Homo sapiens: one gene and its partners. The protein of the gene in region 1 purifies or fractionates together with the protein of each later gene. This does not show direct contact. Each region holds a gene or a part of one and is shown in the gene's direction. Other genes may lie near its edges. The genes, in order: BMAL1, ZNF174, RPRD1A, VPS50, ZNF207 and ZNF44.

What was found.
Region 2: the proteins of BMAL1 (region 1) and ZNF174 purify together in Homo sapiens (affinity purification with mass spectrometry, with the first as the bait; one large-scale study listed by BioGRID). This does not show direct contact.
Region 3: the proteins of BMAL1 (region 1) and RPRD1A purify together in Homo sapiens (affinity purification with mass spectrometry, with the first as the bait; one large-scale study listed by BioGRID). This does not show direct contact.
Region 4: the proteins of BMAL1 (region 1) and VPS50 purify together in Homo sapiens (affinity purification with mass spectrometry, with the first as the bait; one large-scale study listed by BioGRID). This does not show direct contact.
Region 5: the proteins of BMAL1 (region 1) and ZNF207 purify together in Homo sapiens (affinity purification with mass spectrometry, with the first as the bait; one large-scale study listed by BioGRID). This does not show direct contact.
Region 6: the proteins of BMAL1 (region 1) and ZNF44 purify together in Homo sapiens (affinity purification with mass spectrometry, with the first as the bait; one large-scale study listed by BioGRID). This does not show direct contact.

The regions. Positions count from the first base shown.
Region 1 is NC_000011.10:13,381,352-13,386,350, forward strand, and holds part of BMAL1 (basic helix-loop-helix ARNT-like protein 1), read left to right. Parts: intron 1-3,128; exon of another isoform or gene 3,129-3,373; intron 3,374-4,337; coding exon 4,338-4,440; intron 4,441-4,999. UniProt on the Homo sapiens protein: Transcriptional activator which forms a core component of the circadian clock.
Region 2 is NC_000016.10:3,406,094-3,410,417, forward strand, and holds the end of ZNF174 (zinc finger protein 174), read left to right. Parts: intron 1-2,227; coding exon 2,228-2,826; 3' UTR 2,827-3,271; downstream 3,272-4,324. UniProt on the Homo sapiens protein: Transcriptional repressor.
Region 3 is NC_000018.10:36,025,595-36,030,593, reverse strand, and holds part of RPRD1A (regulation of nuclear pre-mRNA domain-containing protein 1A), read left to right. Parts: intron 1-3,283; coding exon 3,284-3,410; intron 3,411-3,518; coding exon 3,519-3,694; intron 3,695-4,915; coding exon of another isoform or gene 4,916-4,996; exon of another isoform or gene 4,997-4,999. UniProt on the Homo sapiens protein: Interacts with phosphorylated C-terminal heptapeptide repeat domain (CTD) of the largest RNA polymerase II subunit POLR2A, and participates in dephosphorylation of the CTD by RPAP2.
Region 4 is NC_000007.14:93,293,951-93,298,949, forward strand, and holds part of VPS50 (syndetin), read left to right. Parts: intron 1-594; coding exon 595-686; intron 687-2,791; coding exon 2,792-2,886; intron 2,887-3,194; coding exon 3,195-3,293; intron 3,294-4,999.
Region 5 is NC_000017.11:32,359,072-32,364,070, forward strand, and holds part of ZNF207 (BUB3-interacting and GLEBS motif-containing protein ZNF207), read left to right. Parts: intron 1-1,526; coding exon 1,527-1,694; intron 1,695-1,820; coding exon 1,821-1,896; intron 1,897-2,396; coding exon 2,397-2,444; intron 2,445-3,842; coding exon 3,843-3,913; intron 3,914-4,999. UniProt on the Homo sapiens protein: Kinetochore- and microtubule-binding protein that plays a key role in spindle assembly. ZNF207/BuGZ is mainly composed of disordered low-complexity regions and undergoes phase transition or coacervation to form temperature-dependent liquid droplets.
Region 6 is NC_000019.10:12,291,148-12,296,796, reverse strand, and holds the start of ZNF44 (zinc finger protein 44), read left to right. Parts: upstream 1-1,913; 5' UTR 1,914-2,102; coding exon 2,103-2,105; intron 2,106-2,184; exon of another isoform or gene 2,185-2,501; intron 2,502-3,421; coding exon of another isoform or gene 3,422-3,565; intron 3,566-5,546; exon of another isoform or gene 5,547-5,577; intron 5,578-5,649. UniProt on the Homo sapiens protein: May be involved in transcriptional regulation.

The DNA.
Region 1 (4,999 bases):
ACAATTTGGACTACTTCCTCCTTGAAGTAAATGCATCTGTGTGAGGCTGGATACAAAGCATACTGGTAGGGCTAGGGAGGCTTGCTGACATCCTCAGAGGCTTTCTTCCATGTGAGTGGAAGAAGGGAGAAAGAATAAGGAATGGGGAACTGTCAGTTCATTTAATTGAGGGAGCAATTCAAGAGTTCCCATGAGGGAAAGATTATTGAGTACCTCACATAGAAAAGTTTCTCATTTTCTGCCAGGAATTTTCAAGGGAGAAAATATTAGTGTCTAGGGCAGGCAATGGAAACAGCAATGCCACCAGCAGTGCTTTGGAAATCAAGCCATGCTTTATAGCTGCAGAATACTTGGGGATCTGCTGCCTGGGGGTTCCATTGGTGTGACAGCATTGGATCCAAGCAGTGGATCAATCACCAGCCCTCATGAAGAGCTTGCTATAAGACTACACTATAAATAGGTTTAGGAACCAGTCATTTGTTTTCATCTTTGCTGGAGAACTTATAAGCCTAGGCCCATCTTAATCGTAAATTATAAATCTGTTTATATTGCCTGATGCCAGTAGAGCTTAGGACAGTTTAAAGGCCATCATTTTGGACACAATGGCTTCCTTTCCCCATCTCCTAAAACAGAGAGAGAGAATATCAGGAATTTCCATAGGCAGGACTCCTAGGGCACAAACCATCAAAAGCAGGGCAAGGATTTTCAAAACTGAGCTCCTCGGAGGTTTGTTCAGGTTACCAAGAGCTGTGGTGTTACCAGGTGGGATGGGCGTGGGGATAGTTGCTAAGGAGAGAGGGTAAGAGTAGAAATCCTGCTTCTACAAGGGCAGCAATACTTCTTTTTTATACAGGAATCTTCTGCAAACATTTCTATTTGAAAAAGCGTTTTGCTCCCCCCAAAAAAGGTTGAAAGTTAACAAATTAATGGGTAAGACTACAAAGTAAGACCTGGGTTCGAAGCTTGGCCTTGCCATGTGCTAGTTATGTGAACTTGTACAACTTTCAAGCCCTAGTTTTCTTTATAATGGAGCTAATAATGGTTAGGGTAGCCAGCATCTTTGCACGAGGTCCTACTGTGAGATAATATATGTGAAAGTGCTTGGCCCAAAATACCACTGACAGATGAAGTCTGAGCTTGGTGTCCCGTGACCCCCGCCCCCCTGCCCACAACACACACACTGCTTGCCAGCTGTCTTCTTAGCTGTTCTTCTGTTATACCTCCAGGTCCTTCCTGCATATTGGATCCACCATCTTCTTAGGGTGGTCTTCCAGTCTCTGCTTCTTAAGTTAACTTTTAGGCACTTGACTTGACTCCTGGTATTACCAAGGATTCTACTTCTTGGTTTTGAAAGGTTATCAGTCCAGTATAGGCTTAAATATTACTCAAAGAACTTTCATATACATTGTCTCATCTCACCTTCACAACATTATAGTGACAAGATCCAGGCTCCTCAGCGTTCGTTTTATAAGTATGGCCCCCAGGCTACAATCCTGGGCTCATGGCTTCCAATTCTTTTCACATCAACAACTACCAGAAATCAAAAGCTGTGCTCTGCATCATAAAGCCCCAGCTATTTTTGAGGCACTTATGAAAATTCTCCCTTTTCTTTGAGAAGAATGGATTATAAAATGGATCTGTGAGAAGAAATTTGGATGTGTTCTCACGAGATGAGTCCTGGGCAGCAGGACTTATAAGAAAAGCAGCTTAAACAAGACAGTTAAAACTGACAGCAGTATTAAATGGTGCACCATACCCAGCCCTTTCCAGTCACTTTCAAATTTGGAAGGTCCAAAAATGAACCATTTAGCCTGCAGTTGTTTGTCAGGATCAAGCTAAAAAGGAAGCCTAAGTGAGCCTCCATAGGTCGCAAGAGAGTACAGACATCCAGAAGCACTAAGGAAAATTCAGATAAAGCAGCAGTTCTACAAATGTCATCTGCAGTCTTTTTCCAGAAAGAGAGGGGGCACAAGATCCTTTTAAGGGTCTGCAAGGTTAAAGCTATTTTCTTAATAACATTAAAACGTTAATTTTTTCCCTGTATTGATAATGTGCACTATTCATACTAAAAGCACGGTTGGGTAAAATTGCTGGCATTTTACAAAAATCAGACAAGTGGCACCAAACTATACTAGTAGTCATTGTATTCTTCACCACCACACACTCACAGTAAAAAAATAGTTTAAAGCCAGTTTCATTTAAGATTGTCCATCATGGCTAGGTGCAGTGGCTCACCCCTGTAATCTCAGCACTCTGGGAAGCTGAGGCAGGCAAACTGCTTGAGTCCAGCAGTTCCAGGCAAGTCTGGGCAACATAGAGAAATCCCATCTCTACTAAAAAATACAAAAAAAATTATCCAGGTGTGGTGGTGTACCTGTAATCCCAGCTACTCCGGGGACTGAGGTGGGAGAATCACCTGAGCCCAGGAGGTTGAGGCTGCAGTGAGCTGAGATTGTGCCACTGTACTCCAGCCTGGGCAACCAGAGTGAGACCCTATCAAGGAGGGAAGGAGGAAAGGAAGGAAGGGAGTGAGGGAGGGAGGGAAAATGTCCATCATTACTTTTATAAAATTCTCAAGCACACATCTTTTTAATGCTCTGTGACAAAATGAGAAGTACACAGAACTTGTGCTGCATACCAAAGTATGATGTTTGTCTCAAAAACTACTTGTGTGATTAAGTTGTGAGTTGAACTAGCTACTATTTTCATTGGACACCATTTTTATTGTATATGGTCATTCGGTTTTGGGTATTTAGAATACTTTTTTTTTGGAAATGAATGAAGTGAACCTGTCACTTTAAGGAAAATGACTGACATTTGTTGCCAATGATAAAATCTGAGCTTTCAAGCAAAAATTGGAATTTTTAGAAAACTTGTCTCTGCTACTTTGACCTTGAGATCTTCCTAAAACTTAAAAAATGTTGTTGATGAGATAGGGAGTATTAATAATAGTGATATTTTGATGCTCTATAATGAAATGTGTCAATATATAGAAGATCTGCATAACTCAGTGAACCAATATTTTGTAACTAAACAATGCAAGGTATTTCAAAATCATGTAAGGGTAAAAGATCCATCCTAAGTGCCAAGATATAAAGAGTACAAAACATTCATTGATATGGTTTCAGATTCCACATTGCAACTCACCTTTAAGAAACTTCTACGTGTCAAGTTTTGAAGTGGTATCAAAAAAGAATACAATTATTTGAAAAGTCTATTAAAATATGCCTCCCTTTTCCAACTACTTATCTGTGGGAGGTTGGATTTCCTTCATATACTTGAATCACAAGACGTATCTAAATAGACTGAATGGAAAAACATATATGAGAATCCAGTTGAAAATTATTAAGCCAGACATTAGATTTGCAAAAATGTAAGATAATACTCTGCCTGGTAATTTTTTGTTACTGTTTTAGAAAATAGTTATTTTTCATTAAAATACTATTCATTATTTATGTTAACATGTAGCGGGTTTATTACATTTAAGAAATCTATTAGTTTTAATTTCAAATACAGTAAATATTGATAAATACAGCCTACATAAGCAAAAGTTCTTTGGAGTCCTCAATGATTTTTTTAAGAGTGTAAAAGGGTCCCTAGACCAAAACGTTGCTGTGGAAATAAAGTAAGTTATAATGCCACCTGCTGGCAAAGCCTGAAATCATTGCTGCTCCTGAAAGCAGCAGCTACCAAACTGTTTCCTCACGTATATCCAGATAGGTCTCAAAGAATGCTCTTCTTTGAGACTCAGCCAGGGGAAGGCAGCTGGGGTGAGTGGGGGAGATTTTGAGACAGAGTTCTCTTACTGAGTAGTAGTAATAATCCTCCCCAGTAGCCTGTCTTAACTTAAACCACAGGTTACTGAAGTTGGCACCTGTAGTATAAGAGATTTACTTCTGTTTTCTTCATTTGACTCCTTGAGCTGTGTCTCTTCACAGCTTGTTAACTCCACTTTTTCTTCTTCAGAAATATCTGTCACTATAAGATGTTTTATTCCCTTATAGGGGAAACGTCTAGCTGGGCTCATTGAAGTTTAGGCATTGGTCCTAAAGAAATATGTGGGCATCATGATTCCAGGCAGTTGAATGCTCTTGGGATTTTATTCAGCCTTTAAGTTGCCTCTGTGGGCTCACTAAAATGGAGAGAAAAGAATAGTTCGGGGGAGAGGTTTTTTCTTACTCTGACCATGTCTGTCTAACAGTTCCTTGTTTGAAATCATCCAATAGAAAACTGAAGCCATTTGAAGCTTCTCCCCACCCCACCCCATGCTTCATTTTCCTTTTGGCATTGCTCATAATACTGATTCAAACTTCACACTTCCCTCCTTTTGTTTGTAGATTTTAAATGGAGGGACTCCAGACATTCCTTCCAGTGGCCTACTATCAGGCCAGGCTCAGGAGAACCCAGGTTATCCATATTCTGATAGTTCTTCTATTCTTGGTAAGTGGCATCATTATTCGTTTCCATTGCAATGAGCTTGCAAAACATCTTACATAAAGTCAATTTTAAGAACTGAACTGTGTGAAACAAGCTAATCCTAGATAAATTTGATAGGAACAGAATAAAAGTTTAAAATTTGTTTAAATCTCTAAAAAGTTGACCAGTATTTGAGTTTTGGTGGAGGTCCAAGTTTGTGCCTGGAACTCAAGAGGAGGCTACAGCTACCTAGACATAGGCTTTCTCCCATGTGGGGCATAATCTCTTCAGAGAGAGAAGGCTAATGAAGGTTCAGAGATAATGCCTAGAAGGGTGATTAGTAAGCATATCAGAAGGTATTAAAAGTCATTAAGTGAAAAGAGTTTGCTTTTCCCATCACATCCATCTTTTTCTCCCCTGGGCTTTCTAGATCTGTTTTTTTCCTAAACTCTCCCTTCCTATTTGCCTTTCTTTTTGTAACTCCTCTTAACTGGTTACATCAGATTATTAAAATAAGCTTGACTCAAATATTTTTAACATTTACTAAATTTTAAGCGCTTTGTACTTATTTCTAAAATGATCA
Region 2 (4,324 bases), on another chromosome or scaffold:
TCCATGCTGTAGCATCAATCAGTGCTTCATTCCTTTTCTGTGGCTGAATAATAGGCATTGTACGGATATATTACATGTTGGTTTTCTGTTCATGTTGGTTCATCTGTTCATAGATTTTTGGGTTGTTTCTACTTTTTGGTTATTATGAAGAATGCTGCTATAAATGTGTGTTTTTGTGTAGACATGTTTTCATTTCTCTTGAGTATATACCTAGGAGTGGAATTACCATATGCTAGGTCATGTGGTAATTCCATGTTTAACTTATGAGGAACTACCAGACTGTTTTCCAAAGCAGCTACACCATTTTACATCCCCACCAATACTGTGTGAGGATTCCGATTTCTCCACATTCTTGCTAGCACTTGTTATTGTCTTATACCCATCCTATTCGGTGAGAAATTTTGATTTGAGGTTTTGATTTACATTTCCCTAGTGACTAATGGTGTTGAACATCTTTTCATGTGCTTATTATCCAGTTACATATCTTGTGTGGAAAAATATCTGTTCAGATCCTTTGGTCATTTTTAAATTAGGTTATTTGTCTTTATTTTTTATAAGAGTCCTTTATGTATTCTAGATACTAGACCCTTATGTGTAATTTGCAAATCTTTTCTCTCATTTTGTGGGTTGTCTCACTTTCTTGACAGTGTCCTTTGACGCACACGTTTTTCATTTTGCTGCAGTCTAATTTATCTATTTTTTTCTTTCTTTATGCTTTGGTGTCATATGTAAAATAGCACTGCCTAATCCAAGGGCACAAATATGTACAGCTATGGTTTCTTCAAGGAGACATAGATTTAGCTCTTACTTTCAGCTATTTGGTCCATTTTAAGTTTATTTTTTCCCCATACATAAACAAGTCAATTTTTATATAGGTTTTGAGGTAGGGGTCTGTCAATCTGATCAGGGGTCTGTCTTAATCTGATCAGGCTCTTACAACAAATTGCCTTAGACTAGGTAATTTATAAACAACAGAAATTTGTTGCTCATAGTTCCTGGATACTGGGAAGTTCAAGATCAAGGTGCCAGCAGATTTGGTGTCTGGCGAGGGCCCATTCCTCATAAATGGTGCCTGCTATGAGTCCCCACATGGTAGTCTCTTGGGTTTCTTTTATAAGGACACTAATCCCATTTATGAGGACCCCACCCTCATAACCTAATCACCTCCCAGATGCCCCACCTCCCAAGACCACTGCACTGGGGACTGTCAATATATGTGTGTCAGGGGACAGGGGGGATAAACATTCAGACCATAGCAGGGTCCAACTTCATTCTCTTGTATGTGGAAATCCAGTAGTCCTAGAATCCTTTATGAAAAAGACTATTCTTTTCCCATTGAATTGTCTTGTCAAAAAGCAATTGACCCTGATTGTATAGGCTGATTATTTACATTTGAATTTAAATGAATTAAAATTAAAAAAAAATTTAAAATTAAGTTCCTTAGTCACAGTAGTCACATTTCAAGTACCCAGTAGCCACATAGTCACATGTGGCTAGTGGCTGCCATATTGAACAACGTGCATGTGCCTGTGCATGCACGTGTGCACACACACATTTTCCACATCACAAGGGATCCTTCTCCAGATCCTGTGATTTCCCATAGGCCGTTCCAGCTCATCTCCATCCAGACTGTCAATCCTTCTGTAATTAGGATACATGGCTAAGCCCTGATTCCAGTTTCTGAACTCATATACTGTCAAATTTGTAATGAAAGAAAACATCACAGTCTCTGAACTTACCATCTTTTGAAGAGAAGGTGGTTGTCAATTAGTGTTTACTAAGTGAGGGGTATTTGTTGAAATAGCTCAGGCATTGGACTACAGCAGTAAAATTTGCAATGTTGAGATTTCACCTCTCTTCCTTCTTCATTAGATACCCAATTCTGATGGGTTTGCTTTTCCCTGTTCTTCATTTCCTAAACCTTTCCCTAAAGGGAGAAAGGAAGAAGGAGGATGGAGAACTTGGTTCCTAAATTTAATATAAATCACAGTCACCCCAGGAGCCTGCTAACTGTGCAGATTATCAGGCCCAACCCCCCGAGATTCTGACCCAGCAGCTCTGGGGGAAGGGTGAAGAGCCTGCTTGTTTAACAAGTGCTCCAGATGAGTCTAATGCAAGTTGCCAGCGGAGGGCCACCCTTTGAGAAACCTCTCAGAGTATTTCATAACTCTTGCTGAAGTTATTTCTTCCAAGTGCAGAAAATGAAGCATTTTCTTTCTAATTATAGAGGCCCCCAGAATGAGAAGTGACAACAAGGAAAATCCACAACAGGAAGGGGCTAAAGGAGCAAAGCCATGTGCAGTGTCAGCTGGCAGATCCAAAGGGAATGGTCTGCAGAATCCTGAACCAAGAGGGGCAAATATGAGTGAACCTCGGTTGTCACGGAGGCAGGTCAGCTCCCCAAATGCTCAAAAGCCATTTGCTCACTACCAGAGACATTGCAGGGTGGAATACATCAGCAGCCCCCTAAAAAGCCACCCACTGAGAGAGCTAAAGAAAAGCAAAGGAGGTAAACGGAGTCTGAGCAACCGTTTGCAACATCTTGGTCACCAGCCCACCCGCTCAGCAAAGAAACCCTACAAATGTGATGACTGTGGGAAAAGCTTCACGTGGAATTCAGAGCTGAAGAGACACAAGAGAGTCCACACAGGAGAGAGACCCTACACGTGCGGAGAGTGTGGAAACTGCTTTGGGCGGCAGTCAACCCTGAAGCTGCACCAGAGGATCCACACTGGAGAGAAGCCATACCAGTGTGGCCAGTGTGGGAAAAGCTTTCGCCAGAGCTCAAACCTTCACCAGCATCACCGACTTCACCATGGGGACTAAAAGGAGCACTCCATGCTTTAGATTCACACGGAAGGTGTTTGTGTTTCTCCTCCCCCTTACTTGCATGTAAATCACAAAAACTGTGTGACTTACAAGGAAAGCACGAGGCCCTTGAGGAATGATGATGCACATTCTGCTGTGAGGAGGCCCAGAAAAGGCCAACCAGGGCCCAACCGTGCATGATGACAGGGTGAAGAGAAGGCAGGTCTGGGCACTGGGGCAAAGAGAACTTAAGTCTCTGCAGAGAGCAAGGAGTAACTACTGAGAGAGAATCAGGACAATCCTGCAGGTGGCCCGCTTACTGTTAAATCGTCCCTCTGTTGCTTTATCCTCTAAAATATGTTAAGGGATAAATTCTATATATATAGTTATGCATTTGCTGTCATACCAGACAATTTTTTATCATGAGCACACTTCTTTAATAAAGATGAGTGATCTACCAGAATTTCAAGGCAAAGTTAATTGGAAAATAGATCCCTCATATTCTTTCTGTAATTACTAGCTGTTTATAGCAAAGGATGAATTAAATGAGAATATGCACGTTTGTGCGAGAAGAGTTTCCAAGTAGTTAGATGGTGCTTTTACAAAAAGAAAAGAAAATTACATTTGAGGGATCTTTTTTGTATCAAAGCACCTTTTTTTTTTCCTTTTTATTTTTTGAGACAGGGTCTCGCTATGTTGCCCAGGCTGGTCTCGAACTCCTGGGCTCAAGCAATGCTCCTGCCTTGGCATCCCAAAGTGCTGGGATTGCAAGTGTGAACCACCGTGCCTGTTCTCAAAGCACCTTTGATTGAGAAAAAAAAAATCTACACAGTTGCTGCAACCCCAGCCTAACACATAAGGAAAAGCTACAGTGAGAAGCAAGTAGTGGACAAAGAGTACTAAGGAGATATAAAAGGGAATTCTTCCCACTCTCCTTTCTCACTTAGCCCATTAGCTTTAAGAATAACAAAATGCAATGGGGGTACAGTGGCTCACACATGTAATCCTAGCACTTTGAGAGGCTGAGGCAGGGTGATCGAGCCCAGGAGTTTGAGACCAGCCTGGGCAATGTAGCTAAATCCTGTCTCTACAAAAAATACAAAAATTAGCCAGGCATGATGGTGCATGCCTATAATCCCAGCTAGCTACTCTTGGAGGCTGAGGCAAAAGTATTGTTTGAGCCCAGGAGTTAGAGGCTGCAGTGAGCTATGATTGCACCACTCCACTCTAGCCTGGATGACAGAGTGAGACTCTGTCTCAGGAAAAAAAAAAAATAGCAAAAGGATTGGGGTAATGAAAATATTCTAAGACTGGATTACAGTGATGGTTGCACAACTCAGTAAATTTACTAAAAATAATTGAAATGGGCTAATTTTATGATATGTAAATTGTACCTCAACAGCGTATTTTTAAGTGACAAAATATATTTATATAAAATGAGCCCTGGAAATAAGCCTGAGCGATCATCTAATGCCACCTCCTCGTTTTCTCAAAGCGGAAATTAAAATGCAAATCA
Region 3 (4,999 bases), on another chromosome or scaffold:
TAGAAAGAGGATTTTTAATTGCCAAATATGGTTAGATGTGAGATGTTAGCTATTTAAACTTTTTAAAATAAAACAAAACATGCCTATTTTGTTATGTGATTTTTTTTTTTTGAGACGGAGTTTCACTCTGTCCCCAGGGCTGGAGTTCAGTGGCACTATCTTGGCTCACTGCAACCTCTGCCTCCTGGGTTCAAGCGATTCTCCTGCCTTAGCCTTCCAAATAGCTGAGACTACAGGCACGGGCCACCAAGCCCAGCTAATTTTTGTGTTTAATAGAGATGGGGTTTCACCATGTTGGCCAGGCTGGTCTTGAACTCCTGGCCTCAAGTGATCCTCCCACCTTGGCCTCCCAAAGTGCTGGGATTATAGGCATGAGCCACTGTGCCCGGCTCATGTATGATTTAAATACACTAAAATTTTCATTCTTGGACATAATCACTGCCCCTTTAAGTATTTTTGTTTTTAAATGTAAAAAGTAGTGTTAGAGTGGCCGGGCGCAGTGGCTCACGCCTGTAATCCCAGCACTTTGGGAGGCCAAGGTGGTCGGATCATGAGGTCAGGAGATCGAGACCATCCTGGCTAATATGGTGAAACCCCGTCTCTACTAAAAAATACAAAAAATTAGCTGGGCGTGGTGGCGGGCGCCTGTAGTCCCAGCTACTCGGGAGGCTGAGGCAGGAGAATGGCGTGAACCTGGGAGGCGGAGCTTGCAGTGAACCGAGATAGCACCACTGCACTCCATCCTGGGTGACAGAGCGAGACTCCGTCTCAAAAAAAAAAAAAGTAGTGTTAGAGTGATATATATGTGTTCATACATTTCTTTGTAACTATATAGAACTATGTAATTCTGTGGAAAAATAAGTTAGAATTATTATCTTAACACTCTGTGTCCTCCTACATGTTGGTATGGTATGGTATTCCTTAACCATCAGATTAATTCCAGAAAGACTTTTTTTTTTTTTTTTTTTTAAGTGGGCATTGAGTCTTTAAGCTTCCTCCTTCTATGTTTCAAACATGTAGGCGGGACAGATAAAGTGTAAAATGAGAAAATGAAGACATAACCATACTCTTAAAACAAGGCGAATGTATTTTCATGGGTTAGAAATTGTACACCTAACTTCATAGGTGAGACAAAACCTGGCTCCTGCTGAGCCCTGGTCCCGAAGCAGACATGGGGTTGCCAGAAATTAGTATCCTTTAAGGTCACAGGAACTCACAAGGGCAACAGGAACTCACAGTGCTCCGTGGGAGTTAGAGGACTGGTTCCAAATTCACTGAATAAAATCAGAGGCTGGGAGGAGCTCTTTCCCCCATGAAGGTGAAAGAAAAATACAATCAATTACTACCTGTAACTGTGGATTTATATTAGTCTCAGTACTGGAGAAGCAGAAGGAATCAGACCAAGGCCACGACCTGAGTCAGCCTACCTGTTTGTTCAGTGATAGGAATGCTGAAGCCCATTGGCCACTATGGACAAGAGCTTGAATAGAAAAGTGATAAGAATGTTACATTTGGAACAACCAAACACTAAGATTTATGTCTCTTCCTATTTGGTAATAACTCATGACAGAAAATCATTTTTGGCTAAGAGCCTCATGATTCTATGAACAGTGTTTTACCTAAGTTCTAGATAAAGGATCTGGTCTCCTTCCGCTCTCCCTGATGAAAGGGTAACCACAGTTGCATATCTTAGGAGTATTTTTAAGTAATCATCTGCCTCTCCTCTAGTACTTGTGTAAAATGCTGTTGCTCTTTGTTTTATAATGATCGTTTTTTAGATTAGTTGTGCTGCTTAATTATCAATGGTTCAGCTTTGTGGTCTTCATTTTTGTGTGTGTGTTATTCTTTATAAGAATGGCTAAAATCTCTTTGTAGGTTCCCGTTAAACTCATTTCATTCTCCTCTGGTAGGAAGTAGTAGGCTTAGTATTGTTTCAGACAACTTTGCTTTCTTATCTGATGCTTGATCAGGCATTGGGAACTTAGAATGTACTCATGTAGGACTGTGAAGGTGTGATGAGATCAGGTTGTAATTAAAGCATCAATGCATTGCCAAGACAATAAAGCCAGATTTCTTCTTAGAACTCCAGACAATTAGAATTTTCTAAGAATGATTTTAAAAATAATATATTAGTTGTGGCAAGATGAGAAACAAGCTTTCTGGTAATTGTTGTTACTCTTAAGCACACCTTAATTGTAGAGGGGATATATCTTACAACAAAATTATTTTTTAAAATACTGAAATTTTAAACACTTCTAATGAGTGAGCACACGTAGGATAGTATATTTCTTATTAGTTTCATTCATTCCTACCACATTTGATCATTTGTCATGTGCTACCCTTTTTTTCAAGGGAATAGTTTAAAAATCTTAATATATACACAGAATTACTAATATCCTATATTTTTTAAAGCATATGTGTAATTTCCTAGTGTTTCTGAATCTAGTATTAGAAATTAAGAAAGAAAGATGAAAAAGATGGGCTGGAGAATGGAAACTAGTAAAAATAAAATTTAATTGTTTTTCTTTGGAATAACTTTATAGACATTATGAGTTGTGAAATCACCAGCAAAGAGTTGCGCTTCCCTCCTAATTATAGCTTGTATGAAAACAGTGGAAGTAAAATATTTTAATGATAAAATAATTTCAGTACTGGTTAAGCAATATATATTAGTCATCAGATTATGGAATTTTGAAATATTTTAATCTTATTAACAAGCCATAGGATACTTGAAGATATCATATTTGAACATATTCTAGAACTACATTTCTCTTGGGCTTTAATTACAGCATTTAGAAATGAAATCTGGGAGACTCTTCTGTGTTGTAGTAGATGATTTGTAACCCTCTTTCCATAATATCCAATTTAATACTAAAAAAACTTCTAGTGTACAATGATAATGTAATGAATATATCATACATAAAACTTGTATTCTCTAGGTTGATGTTATAGCCTACCTTCTCTTTCACCACTGATGTATTTGCCATATAAATCCTCATTACCTCATTTTAGTACTCAAATAATTATTATTACTCTGTCTCCACCACTGGAGTAAGCTCTCTTCAAGGTCTAGGGCCTTGTCCTGTTTATATTTTCAACACCTAACATAGTATAGCCTCCTTTTTTCTTAACATATGAAAGAAATTGATTGTCTTCAAAAGCAGTTTATATTAGGAGCTTTGTACTAGTAAATAGCCCATAGGGATGAAAGAATATGAAATTAAAGTCTTTTGCACTTGTTTAAGCTCAATTTATTTTGGTTCTGAAGTTGTGTACTTTTTAGACTCTAGATCTCGTTAGAGCATTACAAGATCTGGAAAATGCAGCCTCAGGTGATGCAGCAGTTCATCAGAGGATAGCTTCTTTACCTGTTGAAGTCCAAGAAGTATCTCTATTAGATAAAATAACAGGTAAGAAAAGAAAATGTGATCCAGAACTTTTTTGGGAGTTGGGATGAGAGAACAGCATATGTCATTGTTTTTGTTGTATAATATTTTATTATCCCGTGCTTTTCTTAGATAAAGAATCTGGAGAAAGGCTTTCCAAAATGGTAGAGGATGCGTGTATGTTGCTGGCAGATTACAATGGCAGATTGGCGGCAGAAATAGATGATAGAAAGCAACTCACTCGAATGTTAGCAGATTTTCTTCGTTGTCAAAAGGAAGCCCTTGCAGAGAAAGAGCATAAATTGGAAGTGCGTAACCTTTTTCTTCTTTAGTGCTTATTTATTTAATTCTCTTTTTGTTAGGAATTTTAAAATATTTTAATCTATGTGCACATTTTGCATTTTTTAACATAGACCTTTTTAAGCAGTAGCCCAGGTAAGCTTCTCCTTGTATTAATGGTTTTTCTTCTACTTGAACCAAATTAATCTTGCAAGTAAACTTAGAAATTTGGAATTAGCAAAATTGATTGCATTTAAAAATTATTCTTGTGAAATTCCATGCAACTATAATTTATCTTACCAGTTTAACCCTAATGTATCACAGAAATAATAGGAAAATAGCAGGTGGCAGTCACTTGTAGTAGGATTTATTTAGTTTCTGTTTTGAGAAGATGTAGTCTTTTAGGTATACCATTAAGTCTTTAAATTACTCCCTTAATTCCACCCGCCAATTCTAATGCTTACATGTTCCAGCCCCACTCCCGGCTCACACTCTTAGGCAGAAATTCATTGCTCCTGTAAATTAAGTAATAATTAATACCGCTAATGAGAAATCTGGGAGTACAGGAGGTGATTTTAAAAAATGCTCGTATTTCCTTTGATTAGAGTAGCAATTGTTAGGGATACATGAGCCAGATTTGGTTTTATGTAAAAAAAATCTTTCAGTTGATGAGTTCTTGTTTAAATTGTATTGCTGTGGCAATTTCTTATTGTAATAATATGTAGGAGAATTTCTAATTTGAATCCCTTTATTTACAGAAAGCTCACTGTAAATTTGTAGGAATGTCATGGTACTACCCCATTAAGTTATTTTTATTAGTGTTTAGTTATTGATTCAGCAGTCTCTAATTGTGCCAAAAATGGTGCTTAGATTAGATTGCCATTGCTACCCATGGGAGCTGCTACTTAATTATTCCCACCTCAAATTCCCAGCTCTCAAGTTAGCACTACTCCTTTGCAATTTACTCCTTCTCTGCTCGTATAAATACCCTCAGATGATGATAGTTGGTGGCCACTATACCTTTGAAGAGGTTGCCCACTTCTACATGGAAAGGAAAAGATGGTTTTTTTTTTTAAAAGATGAATTTGATAATTAACTTGCCACTATTTCACCTTGTGATGAAACCTCAATTTTAAACATAGTGTTAATTGTTTTATTGTCCACAGAATTAAGGGTAAGTAATGTCATACAATTTTTGTCTTTAGTCTTTTAGTATGGTTTCTTTAACTTCTATTGAGCTTCTGTTGCAGATATTGGACATGGGCGTATCTTCTAACGATGTCGTCACCATTAGTATATTCTTCCTGCTAAAAATAAATATCAAACCCTGAAGC
Region 4 (4,999 bases), on another chromosome or scaffold:
TTCACACAAAAGTTTCATCTTTTTAATATAAATGTGTATGTGTCTTTTTCAGTTGTCTTTAGGGCGGAGATTGGAGGCAGATCACTGATCTTATCTATTAAACTAGACATTGTTAAATTATTTATCTGGAGTGGATAAAACTATTATTTATCATGAAAAATATAAAATATATGCATTATCACCTCACGCCTGAGTTTTAATGTAGACTATCCTCTTAGCACGCATATTAATTGATAATTCAGTTAATTGGTCCTGTAATGCCCTTCTCACAGCCTTTTACATGGTCTTGCAGTAGGCAGTATTGAGAACCTGGTCTCTGGGACCACACTGACTCAGGTAGAATCCCAACTCAGTCACATATGATCTCAGTGGTCTTAGGTATATTTAGCATTTCATAGTCTACGTTTATTTGTCTCACCAAATGGGTTTAAGTCTAATACCTATTGTTTGATATTGTTTTGATTGTATAAATATCAAACATATTTACTGTATCTTACATAGACTTACAATGTGTGAGAGGCCAAATAGAAATTATTTGGAAAACAAACACAAATTGGATTAAATCTAAAAATATATATTGTCTTTTATTTTCAGAAGGGAGTAATATGATAGGTACTGAAGAAACTAATTTTGATCGTGGCTACATAAAAAAGAAATTAGAACATGGACTTACACGAATATGGCAGGTTTGGTTTTTTTAAAATTATTTTTTTCACAGAAGCAATAGAAATGTCATGTCATAGTTTTAGAAATTCAGTTTTAAGTTTTCTATATATGTATTCTTTGCAGATTTAATCATATGTTTCTGTTTGGAATTAGGCTATCATTTAATTTCTGTAATGTATTTGGACTATAAGTGGCAGGAAAAAAGTTTTTTAATTTGAAAATCTCCACTGGAAATATTCATACATGTCTTGAGTACATCTTTTGTTTTAGAGGCCTAGCAAATTTCCACTATCATAGAGAAATGTATGCTTTCTCAGTGAGATGTTCTGTTTATTATTTCATTTATCTGTGTTTTCTTAATTTTTTTTTCTGTTAATTTTAGAAAAGGAGTAACTAAGTAGATAGCATACTTAGGTCAGATTATAGTTTAGAATGAATAATTCTTTTTTTCTCAGTCAATGATCTTTGTACCTTGAGGGAATCTTACATGCTTATTGGCTGAATATATCTGGTTTTAGTCCATTTGGGCTCCTATAACAAAATATTCTAGACTGCATAGTTTATAAACAGAGAAGTTTATTTCTTAGAATTCTAAAGGCTGGAAGTCAGAGATCAGGGTGCCAGCATTGTTGGGAGGGAGGGCCTGCTTCCTGGTTCATAGACATTGTCTTGCTGTATCCTCAAATAGTGGAAGGGATGAAGGAGCTCTCTGGGGTCCCTTCTATAGGGGAACTAATCTAATTAATGAGGGCTCTACCTTCACGATTTAATCATCTCACAAAGGCCCCACCTTCTAATATATTATCACCTTGGAGGTTAGAATTTCAGCTTCGGAATTTTGGGTAGACATGAACATTCAGACCATAGCAGTATCTTATTAAGTTTTTCTTTACAATTTAGTAACTCAGTTGTTGTAATCAGATAATTTGTTACTTCTTAGATCACAGTGTAATTTCTTTGAAGATAACTTACTCTTTTTGGACTTCTTTGAACCTTGGAAGACTATAGACCCTTTGGCCATGTTATGGTCTTTTAAAATGTATTTTTGATTTTTCTAATGAGGCTGATCTTTATTTTGACCATCTTTTTTTTTCTTTCTTTCTTTTGATTGATTGATTGATTGATTGAGACAGGGTCTCACTCTGTCACCCAGGCTGGAGTGTGGTGGCAGAGTCATGGCCCAGTGCAGCCTCGACCTCTTGGGCTCAGGTGATCCTTCTGCCTCAGCCTCCTGAGTAGCTGGGACCACAGATGTGCACCACCATGCCTAATTTTCTTAAATTATTATTGGTGGATATGGGGTCTTGCTATGTTGCCCAGACTGGTCTTGAACTCCTGGGCCCAAGTGATATTCCTGCCTTGGCCTCCCAAAGTGCTGGGATTACAGGCATCAGCCACCATGCCCAGCTTGACCATCTTTTATAGGATATGTTTTGAAAAAAATTGTTTAGGAAAATATATTTTGAAAACATAAATTTCTTCATGAATCAGTTAATATTTATAATTTAGTGCTCTTCTAATTTTTGATAATTTTGTATTCGATATGCTATTTGATTTTATGCTTTAGTATTTAAAATTTATTTTTGTGGTTGTAAGAGGTTTGACATATATTTTCTCATTTGTCTATATTAAACTCATAACCATATTAAACATTTATTAAAATTAAATATTTAATTTATCATTAATTGTGGATTTAGGCTGACTGTTTTCTGAGTATTATGCATAAAAAGAAAGGAAAATCTTATAGTTATTGAATATACACCCAGGATCAGATATGATTTGTTTCTGACTTAGTCTCCCAATAGGCCTTAAGTGTACTTTGGTAAAATTTTACAATCTATGATAGAATTTCTGGTAATTCAGTGTACTTTGAAATACTGACTTAGCACTTTATGTAGCTACTTTCCATTCAGTTTGGCAACCTGATGGCATTCCTGGTATAGGAAATGGGATTGTCTCTATTACATCCCTTAAGGATGTTGGCTATTGGCCTAAATAGATATTCGTTAACAAATTAGGAATATATTCCTGTCTCATTTTAATCTGGAACTATAGAGTAAATGCTTCTGATAACTTATTTTCTATATTTTGGGTTTGCTTGATTTTCTTTTTCTTTGCCTTACAGGATGTTCAGCTAAAAGTAAAAACCTACTTGCTTGGAACTGATTTGTCTATATTCAAATATGATGATTTCATCTTTGTTTTGGATATAATCAGCAGGTAGTATTTAAGATCTTGTCTTATTCTTTAGTTTGAGTCATTCAACCATGATAAATCATGAGCTAGTGAGTTATCATCTATAACTTCTTTATGGAAATGAAGATAATTTTTGCTGCTAAGTTTGTGAGTGTATTTAAATATTTCTGCCCTTTGGGTGTTTGTAAACCTTTATGGATTTGTGATCTTTAGAATTTTTTCACATGTCCAAATTTTAGTGATTTTTTTTATCTTTGAAGAAAGAGAAACCACACTTCTTTTTCTCTATAAGGCTGCTGCTGAAATTTACTGAAACCTTTTTATCCAACTAGGTTGATGCAAGTTGGAGAAGAATTTTGTGGTAGCAAGTCTGAAGTTTTACAGGAATCTATTAGAAAACAAAGTGTCAATTATTTCAAGAATTACCATAGGTAAGAACTCTAATAAGATATGAATCGACTTATTTAGGTAATGAGAATACTTTTGTCTAATACTTAATCTTATAGCATTAATTGATTTTAAACAATTACTTTTGAATTTGAATGTGTTGTAGCTTTTTTAAGATGGTTAAGGATTTTTTTAACCAAAATATGATGAAATGTTCTCATTACATATTCATTGTACATTTTAATATATTTTTGTCTTGAGGGGCTTAAAATATTGAACTGATTTTTTAATGAGTAAAACATGATTATTATATCAAGGTTCACAGAAAGAATTTGGCCACTGTTCCATACCTGCATACATATGGGTGTGCTTATAAGGAAGTTAAATCAGTAGAGGCAGTGCTCAGTGAGGGGGTGCTTGAGAGTATCTATCTTTTAAATGTAAGAAGGATTCTAGAGGAGAGGATGTGATATTCAGAATTCCCCTATAAATCCAAATTTGTATACTGCATTGCTTTGCAAAACAATCACTGCTAATATTTAAAAGAGTGACTAGGAATGGTTTGGGTAGTGGAGGAAGGTGGGAAAGAATGTTTATAATAGCAGTGTGATTATATCCTTACAGCAGCAATAAATTGAGGGAAGGGAGAGCTAACATGAGATTTCTCTTGATATAAGCTAGACCCCAAGTTGTATCCCTTTTGTCCTTTGAGTTGAGTTTCATCTTACTTTTTATTCTGAACTTTTACTTTTTACAATTGAATTTAAGTTTTGATTTCCTTGTTATTTGGTCCCAGAGAGAGTCATGATTTGAAATTCTGCTTTTTCTCCTTGTTCATAGTCAACACCTGCTCACAGTGATATATGCCATGTCAAAAGAGAGATGACTGAACACCAAACCATTGATTAATTAATTATTATATATATTTGAATACAAGTTATCTCTGTTAATTGTAAACAATGAAGTAAATTGTTTGAAAAAGATTTAAATTGAACTATACTAAAGCAGAGCCTTTGAGTTTCATGACTGAGAATGTTTAAAAATTTTTTAAAAATTTAATTGACTAAACCTCAGGGAAACAGTGGGAAGGGACCAACAGGAAGCCCTAACACTGCCTTTATTTATAAGTTCCTTGTCTGCTAAAACTTAAGCCCTGACTAAAACAAAAGGCTGGCCCTATAAACATTCCTGTATAGAAGTGGGAGGGGCCTGTTAATCATGGATGGGGAAATAAAATGGAAGCACAAAGGAGCCGGAAGCCTCACTTTCCCTGCAGTATGAAGGCATGCCAAATGTCTCTCTTCCCAGAGATTGCTTTGTATCCAACATGACAACTGGGAGAACTTTTGGTGTTCCTGGTGTCTAGGATGTGTGTACAATATAGAGACACTGATTTATTTAGTAGCTTCCATTCTGCATTCTGTTTTACTTATTGTCAAAAGGTGTCTGTCATCTGTAGCAACTAGCTAGGGGCATTTTGACCATGATGGAAATTCCTCACAGAGTTCACATTAATAAAATTAGAAAATACAGAAATGAATGACTTAAATCTTCCTCAAACACTCAACATTTTAAATAACTTCTCTTAGAAACATTTGTGAAACTTATTTCTCATTGATGTGGCTGTGCTATATTATTAGAAGGAAAGCTGGGTTGAGTAATAGTAGACTTGGGTTCTTGTCGCATTTTTTGCTGCTTACCAACTGTCTGGTATTGGCAAATCCTTTAACCTCTCTGGCCTGTGATTTTA
Region 5 (4,999 bases), on another chromosome or scaffold:
GGATTACAGGCGCAAGCCACCACACCCAGCTGATTTTTGTTTGTTTTTGTTTTTGTTTTGAGATGGAGTCTCACTCTGTTGCCCAGGCTGGAGTGCAGAGGTGCGATCTCGGCTTACCACAACCTCCGCTTCCCAGGTTCAAGCAATTCTCCTGCCTCAGCCTTCGGAGTAGCTGGGATTAGAGGTGTGTGCCACCACACCTGGCTAATTTTTGTGTTTTTAGTAGAGACAGGGTTTCACCATGTTGGTCAGGCTGGTCTTGAACTCCTGACCTCGTGATCTGCCCGCCTCGGCCTCCCAAAGTGCTGGGATTACAGATGTGAGTCACCACACCTGGCCTAGTTTTTATATTTTTTAGTAGAAACGGGGTTTCACCATGTTGGTCAGGCTGGTCTCAAACTCCTGACCTCAAGCAATCTACCTGCTGAGGCCTCCCTAAGTGCTGGGATTACAGGTGTGAGCCACCATCTCTCTCCCCTTGTGATAATATTCTTTTTTCAGCCTCACTTAAGCCCAGAGTTAGTATTTTCAATTATAAATTTAATGGTAGGGTAGTTGGAGTGGCTCACACCTGTAATCCCAGCACTATGGGCAGGCAGTGCAGGAAAATTGCTTGAGCCCAGAAATTGGGAGACCAACCTAGGCAATAGAGAATGACACCCTGTCTTTACAAAAAAAAAATACAAAAATTAGCCGGGTGTGGTGGCACATGCCTATAGTCTAAGCTGAGGTGGGAGGATCTCTTGAGCCCAAGGGGTTGAGGCTTCAGTGAGCTGTGAATTCTCCAGTCTGGGCAACAGAGTGAGATCCTATTTAGATAAATCGATTGATTGATCACTTGATAGATAGATAAAATTGAATGGTAGATGATAGATTTATTTGGAATTTAAAATTTGAGCTCTGTTTTTGAAGACATACTTGATTTGTATATATGCAGTACCATTTGGATCATTCCATTTTCTTATATTATTATTCATAATTGAATTCCAAATAGAATTAGCAAGTGTTAAGGCATATGAAAATGAAGGACTCCTATAATTTCAGTGCTTTAGGTAGCTGAGGCCGTAGGATCACTTGAGGCCAAAAGTTCAAGACCTCACCTTTACCCCCCCCCCAAAAAAAAAAAAAAAAAGCCCAGTGTGGTGGCATGTGTCTGCAGTCCCAGCTACTTGGGAGACTGTGGCGGGAGGATCGCTTCAGCCCAGGAGTTTGAGAGTGCAGTGAGCTGCAGTCGTGCCACTGCTGTACAGCCTGCATCGCAGAGCAAGACTTTACTAAAAATTTAAAAGAAAAAATACTGATTTAGGATAATCATTTTACCTTTCATAGGACAGGGAAAGAACGTTAATCTTGTTTAATATAGGGCGAAAACACATTTGAAGAACATAGAGCAGTATTAATTGAATTTTTGGGGAAGAAAAATCTCATGAAGTAATTTTACCCATATATGTATTTTTAAATATTGAATGTTGTAAATAAACTTTCTTAGTTTTTACTCTATGGAAATAATTTTTTTTTTTTAACAGAAAGTCAAAAAAAGAAGCAACAAGATGATTCTGATGAATATGATGATGACGACTCTGCAGCCTCAACTTCATTTCAGCCACAGCCTGTTCAACCTCAGCAAGGTTATATTCCTCCAATGGCACAGCCAGGACTGCCACCAGTACCAGGAGCACCAGGAATGCCTCCAGGTAGCACATAGGATTGCTTAAAATCTAACATTTTTAGGACATTATTGATATTGTATCGAAGTATTACTTTCTTCCCTCTAACTCTTTAATATTTGTTATTATTTTGATTGAAATTCTTGCTTGTAGGCATACCTCCATTAATGCCAGGTGTTCCTCCTCTGATGCCAGGAATGCCACCAGTTATGCCAGGCATGCCACCTGGGTAAGAAAATTCTTTTAATTGCCCTGTAGGCTTGTGCCTAGTAATGATCTTTTTCAATTTGGATGTTATATGAATGAAATGTTACTTTCCATTTTTTGCTTCTAGAAGGTATGGGCTCTATATATCTTGTCTAATAAAGGGATCAACCAGTAAATTTAAGGAATATAAATTTGCCTCTGAGTAATAGATTTTTGGGTTTTAGGGTATATGTAAGCAACCATCTACTTCAATTGCATTTACTGTGATTAAAGTAGTTGGTTATTTATAGATTTGCGTTTCTGAGATTCAGAATTATCTGTGACACTTTGTAGTTGTGACAAGAAGCAGAGAAACTCTGTAAATGATTTATTTGTCAAAGCATCAAAACTAAAATGAATATGAGGTGCTTGTGCCCATCACTTTTACTTAAATATTGTTGGATGTGAGAGGTATACAATACACTTTCCCACTGTATTTTGAAAATCACAGTTAGATTTTGATTTTGTCATACATTTTCACAGATTGCATCATCAGAGAAAATACACCCAGTCATTTTGCGGTGAAAACATGTAAGCATCTCATTCATAATGTAATTCAGGAGGTATAATCATACTGTCATTTTTTTATGTGTGTGTTTAATGGTATCTATTCAGTTGACTTCAGAAATTTTCTAACCTTCCTCACTAAAACTTGCAAGCTAATTAACACAGGTCTCTTAAAGAAGGAAAATAAAACATCTTTTAGGAAACGGTAATAGACCCATATAAACATACTTCAAATGTGCAGTGATTTTCTCCAAACTATTGAAAGTAATGGGACCTGTTAATAAGGGTTAGTATTTAAGAAAGACTATATTCTATGAAATTACATGCTTTATTATTATAGGATGTAATGGAATTTTCTAATCTATTAATAGAAGTTAATCTTCTGATAAAAATTTTAAATCAAGAACTGAATTTACCCACAAAAATTTAAAAAATTTGAAAGAAAATTGACCAATTTATCATTTTTTAAGTGAATTGGACACTGATATTTGAAGGTGAGCTCTTTTAGGGGAAAAAATAAGTGGGTTGTGTTTTTAAGTCATGGTTTAGTGGTAGGTAGTTATTGTAAATAGGCCATCTGGTTTTACTTTTGAGTGTCTTTAATTTTGGTGGTAGTATTTCCTTTCTCTAAAAAAAAAAAGTGTGTGTGTGTGTGTGTGTGTGTGTATATGTATGTATTTGACACAGGGTCTCTTACTCTGTCGCCCAGACTACAGTGCAGTGGCGCAGTCACAGCTTACTGCAGCCTTGACCTCCTGGGCTCAAGTGATCCTCCCACCTCAGCCCTCTGAGTATCTGGGACTACAGGCGCACACTACTGCACCCAGCTAATGTTTAAAATTTTTGCTTTTTTAAAAAGTTATGGTCTCACTTTTTGCCCAGCCTGGTTTGAACTCCTGAGTTCAAGCAGTCCTTGAGCCTTGGCCTCTCAAAACTTCTGGGATTATAGGCATGAGCTGCTGCACCTAGCCAAATAAAAAATCTCATTTCACAGGGTACATTCATTCAATCTTTTTCTTTTCAAAATCCAACACAACTCTGAAATAGAGATTTCTTCTTTTTCTTTAATACTCTGTGGATATTTTCCAAGTGGAAAAAGTGGTGAATTTGCTTTCCCATTACACATATTTTAGATGAGGCCTCTTGTACATATTGAGAGTATATTTGTTCTCAAATGACTTTAAATGTTTTGTCAACATTTTTTTTTTATTGGTAAACCAAAGAGTTTGCTGGGTTTTAGACAATTTATTTTGATAGGATTGTTACAGTGTGTTGTGTGTTCTTTCAGCTTTGATTCATTTCAGTATTAGAGGTCAGATTCAAGTCTTCTATCTAGTGTTGTTTCAGGCTTTAGCCAGAATATTTTTTAATGGTTTATGCTGTTCATTAACTTACTGTTTCTTGAAATTTGCTTTCTAATAGAATGATGCCAATGGGTGGAATGATGCCACCTGGACCAGGAATACCACCTCTGATGCCTGGAATGCCACCAGGTATATGTTAGATAATTTCATTTTAATATGATGTACAGGCTTTATTTCTAAGTTTTTTTAGACGTCTGTGGGCATTAGTATAATGAAATTTAAAAATTTTTGAAAGTTGCAAGTTCCTGTGAGAAGTGTTATATGGACCCTTTTTTAAAAAATGTATTTTGGTAGATATCTCGGCTCACTGCAACCTCTGCCTCACAGGTTCAGGCGATTCTTCTGCCTCAGCCTCCTGAGTAGCTGGGATTACAGGCGCCTGCTACCACACCTGGCTAATTTTTGTGTATTTAGTAGAGACGGGGTTTTACCATGTTGACCAGGTTGGTCTTGAACTTCTGACCTCAGGTGATCCACCCACCTTGGCCTCCCAAAGTGCTGGGATTACAGGTGTGAGCCACCACGCCTGGCTGGCCCTTTCTTGAAGTTTGAAATAGATGATAGGTTTCAAAGCAGCCAAAGTGAGTCACGGCCTATGTGCTGAATCTCACATACTTAGAGCGCTTGTATTTGTTAGGAATGTTTTAGACAAGTAATAGAGAAATCCAACAAACTTTTTTTTTTTTTTTTTTTTTTTTTTTTGAGATGGAATCTCGCTCTGTCACCCAGGCTGGAGCATGATCTCGGCTCACTGCAACCTCTGCTTCCGGGGTTCAAGTGATTCTCCTGCCTCAGCCTCCCGAGTAGCTGGGAGTACAGGCGCCCACTACCACGCCTGGCTCATTTTTGTATTTTTAGTAGAGATGGGGTTTCGCCATGTCGGCCAGCTGGTCTCAAACTCCTGACCTCAGGTTATCCGCCTGCCTTGGCCTCCCGAAGTGCTGGGATTACAGGCGTGAGCCACTGTGCCCAGCCCCAACAAACTGTATTAAACGGTGTAGGCATTCATTGTCTCAGTCAACAAAAAAGTGGTAGATTCAGTGGCTCAATGATATTTATTAACCCATGCTTTTTTTGACTTTGCTCACCTTAGCTTTTTTTCCTCAGAAATGTCATTTGGTTATAAGACAGCTCAGACAAGAAGGGGTGTCGGTTGTAGTGCACTCTCCATTTTCTTTTCTTCTTTTTTTTTTTTGAGACAGGGTGTTGGTCTGA
Region 6 (5,649 bases), on another chromosome or scaffold:
AAATGATAATAAGCCTTCCCCAAAACTCAACTGCCTTTGTAAAACGAATGAATGGCCATCAGGCTGAGGGATGAAAGGAATCGGAATGCTGCTAAAGTGTAGACATAGATTGCCAGCTATTTCTGCAGATAACACCACTATTGTAGATTAGCATTTGTAGACGTATTTTCAGTTTTTGTTTGTTTGTTTGTTTTTTTTTTGCATGTCTGACACCACCTGCACCTGCCAACTCTGCTCCTGTGGCCCCAACCAGAAGTGATTCAGCATAACAGGATAGGTTTTTTTTTTTTTTGTCTTTTTTTTGTTTTTTTTTGAGACGGAGTTTCGCTCTTGTTGCCCAGGCTGGAGTGCAAAGGCACGATCTCGGCTTGGCGCGATCTCAGCTCACCGCAACCTCCACCTCCCGGGTTCAAGTGATTCTCCCGCCTTAGCCTCCCAGGTAGCTGGGATTACAGACATGTGCCACCACGCCCAGCTAATTTTGTATTTTTAGTAGAGACGAGCTTTCTCCATGTTGGTCAGGCTGGTCTCAAACTCCCGACCTCAGGTGATCCGCCCGCCTGGGCCTCCCAAAGTTCTGGGATTACAGGTGTGAGCCACCGGGCCCGGCCTCTTTTTTTCTTTTTTAAATATGTAGCAGTACAAGCCGCAGACAAGAACCCCTCAGACACCGAGTTGTGGAAGGAAAGGGCTTTATTCAGCTGGGCTGGGAGCATCGGCGGACTCACGTCTCCAAAAACCGAGCTCCCCGAGTGAGCAATTCTTGTCCCTTTTAAGGGCTTACAACTAGGAGTCCGCGTGAGAGGGTCGTGATTGATGGAGCAAACAGTGGGTACGTGACTGGGGGCTGCATGCACCGGTAACCAGAACTGAACAGAACAGGACAGGGATTTTCACAGTGCTTTTCCATACAATGTCTGGAATCATAGATAACACAGTTAGGTCAGAGGTTGATTTTTAACTACCCAGCCCAGGGCACAAGCCGGGTTATCTGCCTGTGGATTTCATTTCTGCCTTTTAGTTTTTACTTCTTCTTTGGAGGCAGAAATTGGGCATAAGACAATATGAGGGGTGGTCTCCTCCCTTATAGTATAGAGACGGAGTTTCACTCTATGTCCAGGCTGGTCTTGAACTACTGGCCTCAAGCGATCCTCCCACCTAGGCCTCCCAAAGTATTGGGATTACAGCGGTGAGCCACCACGCACTGCCAAGAGGACAGATTCCATCCCCAGTGATTTCATCCCCACCCCAACCAGTCAGTAGCAAGCCTAGCTACCTCCACCCTTTCTCCCAAACTGCCCTTGAAAAACCCCTACCAGAGGACCTTGGATGAGAATAATTTGAGTAGTAACTCCGTCTCTCACGTATCGTAGCTGGCCTAGTGTTTATTAAACTTTTTTTTTAACTGCAATACCGTGGTCTTTATTTGCGTAGCGCGCAGAAAGAACCCATCCAGCGCTTATAGTGGAAGAAAGGCTTGACCTTGCAGGCGACAGCCTCATCCCAAATTCCTGGTCCCTGGAGGACATCAGCACCACCCCCCCACCCACCCACCCCCTGTCCCCCGCTGCTACAGTGTGGCCTGTGTGGCCTCGGCTGCCCTCCTGCTCTGAGGCCAAGGGATGGCTCCACTGGACAGTGAGTCTGGGATTCCTTGCACACAATTGTTCAGGAGGAAGAAGCAAAAAGGGCCCACTGCGTACAGGTAGGAAATTCCGCTTTAAGGCAAACGTTTCCCGGGACGGGTCGGGTCACAACGCAGGGAGGAAGCCCGCCCTGCCAGGGGCCGGGTCTGGAACCTGTTCATCCGGCTGCACTCAGCACTGTGAGATCGCTTCTTCTGTCACTCAGTGCCCAGGAGGCGGGACCTGGAGGGCTACCCAATCAAAGTCGTGGGCGGGTTCCTGAGAATTGTCAATCAGGCGCGAGGCAGAGAGGAGGGTGTGACGTTCCAGGAGCTAGTGGCCTCTTCACCCTGGTGACCTCTGTTCCGTATTCTGTCACTGAGAGACGCCCTGGGACATCTGTGGTGGCTTTTGTCGCGCTGGGACCTACCCTGACTACGGGAGTTGGGAGGACCCGGGACACCGCACAGCCGGGAAATGGTGAGTGTGCGGGGCCCGGCGTCCTGAGGCAGGGCGAAGGGCTGGTCGGAACCAGTCGGAACCGGCTGTGGCGGGACCCGGGCCTCGCCGCAGCGTCTTTGGGGTCTGGGACCTGAGCGCCCCCTGCGCACCTCGGTCCTCGGTCCGTTTGGCCGCAGGGTGGGGCTGGGCCGGCAGCCGGGACCCCGGGCGTCCTGTCCCGTCCCTGAGCTGCGACTGCGGCCCCGGCCCCGGCGCCCCTCTCTGGGCAGCTCCGCGCCCTCAGCCCCGCTTCTCCCCAGATTGTGCGGCGGAACCAGTACAGGTTCGCAGCCCAAGTCACTGCACCCGGACGCCGAGGGCTGCAGCAGAAACGGTTTAATAGGAGAGGACACCCTAGATCCGCCTCCGTGAGAGGTTTGAGGATGGGGTGTTTAGGGGTCTGGACGGGGGTGGTTGGGATGTGGGGTCGCTGGTTGGTGGAGAAGTGAGGGGTGAATCTTGGGACTGGAGGTGAAGAAACCGCATTCTGCTGCTGAGTGGGCTTCCTTGTGGGGTCTTCAGCCTGCTTGGCGCCAGCCTTTCCGCTGGAATTCAAGATCTGAGAAAGAACTTAGACGACTCTTGAGCAACTCTCAGAGATCTTATCCCCAGGCCAATGGGGAAGCCGGCGGTCAGCGTCTGCTGTGACCTGACTCTCAGGGAGGCGGCTTCCTGTGAAGCAGCGGGGCTGAGGGCACCTGGTTAATATCTAACTGCAATCTCGCCTCCAGCCTGGCTCGCAGTTCCTGTGAGCCCGGTGAGGAGGCTGCACGGTGACGGTGGGAGGGTCACTAGGCACAAACCAGACTCGTGTGTGGGGTTTGTGTGTGGGAGGAGCTGTGGTCTCTGTGCTCTTCAGTCCTTTCTTTCCAAGGGCGACCATTTCTCCTCCGAGGCTTTCAAAGATATTGGCATCAGGGTCTTTGAGACCTGTCCCTTCATCCTAACTCCTCTTGGGGCTAACAGTAAATCTTTTGGTTTCCAGAGCCTTCCATATGCTAACTTCACTCCTCAATTCCCAGTAACGTTATGAACCCTTTGTCAGCAAGACGATATTTCAAATAGACACAGAATTTTGTCGTTTGTTTTCAGATAGCAATGTATGGCTCTTTTTAAACAGATTTATTTTGTTTTCCTTAACATTTCACATGTGAGGAAGAAGAGAATAACCACCTGACACTGCTGTAAAAAAAACCAAACCTTTGTGCCTCTTTTATCTCCCCTAGGCACAGATGCCTTCTCAGTATGTCCTTTACAGGGTGATGTGACCTCAGCCCACCCTGTATCTTTTCCAGGCCCTGTGTTATGGAACTTTCTGGGGCTACCCTAAGATGCTGGAAGCTGCCAATCTCATGGAGGGCCTAGTGGATATCGGCCCTTGGGTCACTCTTCCCAGAGGACAGCCTGAGGTGTTGGAGTGGGGCCTCCCAAAGGATCAGGTGGATGCACTGGGGTGGGAGGAATCTTCTGGTATATCATTCCTGTAAAAAGCTAACCCCTGGGCTGGGCGCGGTGGCTCACGCCTGTAATCCCAGCACTTTGGGAAGCCGAGGCGGGCGGATCACCTGAGGTCAGGGGTTCAAGACCACCCTGGCCAACATGGTGAAACCCCATCTCTACTGAAAATACAAAAATTAGCCGGGCATGGTGGCAGGTGCCTGTAATCCCAGCTACATGGGAGGCTGAGGCAGGAGAATCACTTGAACCTGGGAGGTGGAGGTTGCAGTGAGCCGAAATCACAATCATGCCATTGCACTCCAGCCTGGGCGACAAGAGGGAAACTCTGTCTCAAAAAAAAAAAAAAAAAAAAAAAAACCTAACCTCTGGGACATTGACATTTTTTTCCCCAAGCCTAGTTTCCATTCCTTGGTGACGCATGGCTTATCAGAAAATTGGATGGTGTTATTCAGGGGACAAGACAAATGATTTCTGCCTTCTGGACTCTCTCCGACTGTGAAGCTAGAAAACTGTTTCTAAAAACTGAAAAACCCACCCAATGAGGTTTTGCATGAGCCTGAAAAAGACATAAGGCAGTGTCTCCTAGGAATGTGGTTGCTGAGCACTTCAATGAGCACCGTGGGGCTGGCGGATGTGCCAGGTGATAGAACGACCTGACCTGACGGTTGAGTGAGACTTGTCTGTGTTCCAGTCAGTTCTGCCCCACCCTGGGTTAGTTACCCTGAAAAGATTTGTTCAGTTATTTCCAATTTAATTTTTTATTAACTGTAAAGGGCATCCTATCATTAGAGATTATAGAGAAGATAAAGTGTTTCTAAAGAGGCCAGAAAGAGTTGGAATTCAGAAAACAAATTATATATATGTAGTTTTCTATTCCTTTTTTTTATTATTTTTATTTTTTATAAGACAGGGTCTCCCTCTGTTGCCCAGGCTGGAGTGTAGTGGCACCATCATGGCTCACTGCAGCTTAGGCAGCCTAGACTGCCTGGGCTCAGCCTCCGGAGTAGCTGGGAATGCCCACCATGCCCTACTAATTTTTGAGTATTTTGTAGTGATGGGGTTTCCTCATGTTGCCAGGCTGGTCTTGAAGTCCCGGGCTCAAGTGATCCTCCTGCCTTGGCCTCCCAAAGTGCTGGGATTACAGGCATGAGCCACTGGACCCAGGCCCTATTCCATTTTTTAAAAACTTTTTTTCTTTTCTTTTCTTTTTTTTTTTTTTCTGAGATGGAGTTTCACTATATTGCCCAGGCTGGAGTGCAATGGTACTATCTTGGTTCACTGCAACCTCTGCCTCCCAGGTTCAAGCAATTCTCCTTCCTCAGCCTCCCGAATAGCTGGGATTACAGGAACATGCCACCATGCCTGGCTAATTTTGTATTTTTAAGTAGAGACAGGGTTTCACCTTGCTGGCCAGGCTGGTCTTGAACTCCTGACCTCAGGTGATCCTCCCGCCTCGGCCAATGAAAGTTCTGGGATTACAGGTGTGAGCCACTGCACGCAGCCTTTTTCTTTTTTTTTTGAGACATGGTCTCCCTCTATCACCCAGGAGTGCTGTGGTACGATCTCAGCTTACTGCAACCTCTGCCTCCAGGGCTCAAGAGATCCTTCCACCTCAGCATCCCAAGTAGCTGCGACTACAGGCGTGCGCCACCACACCTGGCTAATTTTTGTATTTTTGGTAGAGATGGGGTTTCACCGTGTCGCCCAGGCTGGAGCATTTTTAAAAAACTTTTATTTACTTTTATTACCCCAGAGACCATGTAATAGGTTTCTCAGGTCTTTTATTGGATGATTTCAAATGGAATTTCAGGGCTTAGCAGTGTAAATACTACCAAGGGAAAAATTTGGGAAAACTCTTCCATTTTGGCTGCAGAAAAATGAATATATTTTCACAAGAATGTGTGGTAGGTATTTGGTTGAATTATAAAGCTTTATCAAAACTTTAGTTTCTCTTCTTTTTAGGCTGGAGAACTTGGGACAGTGGATAAGTCTGGTCTGTTCCTGTTATCTGGACTTGGCAGATTAATGCAACATTCTGTGGGACTTTGCAATAGCTAAAGAACTT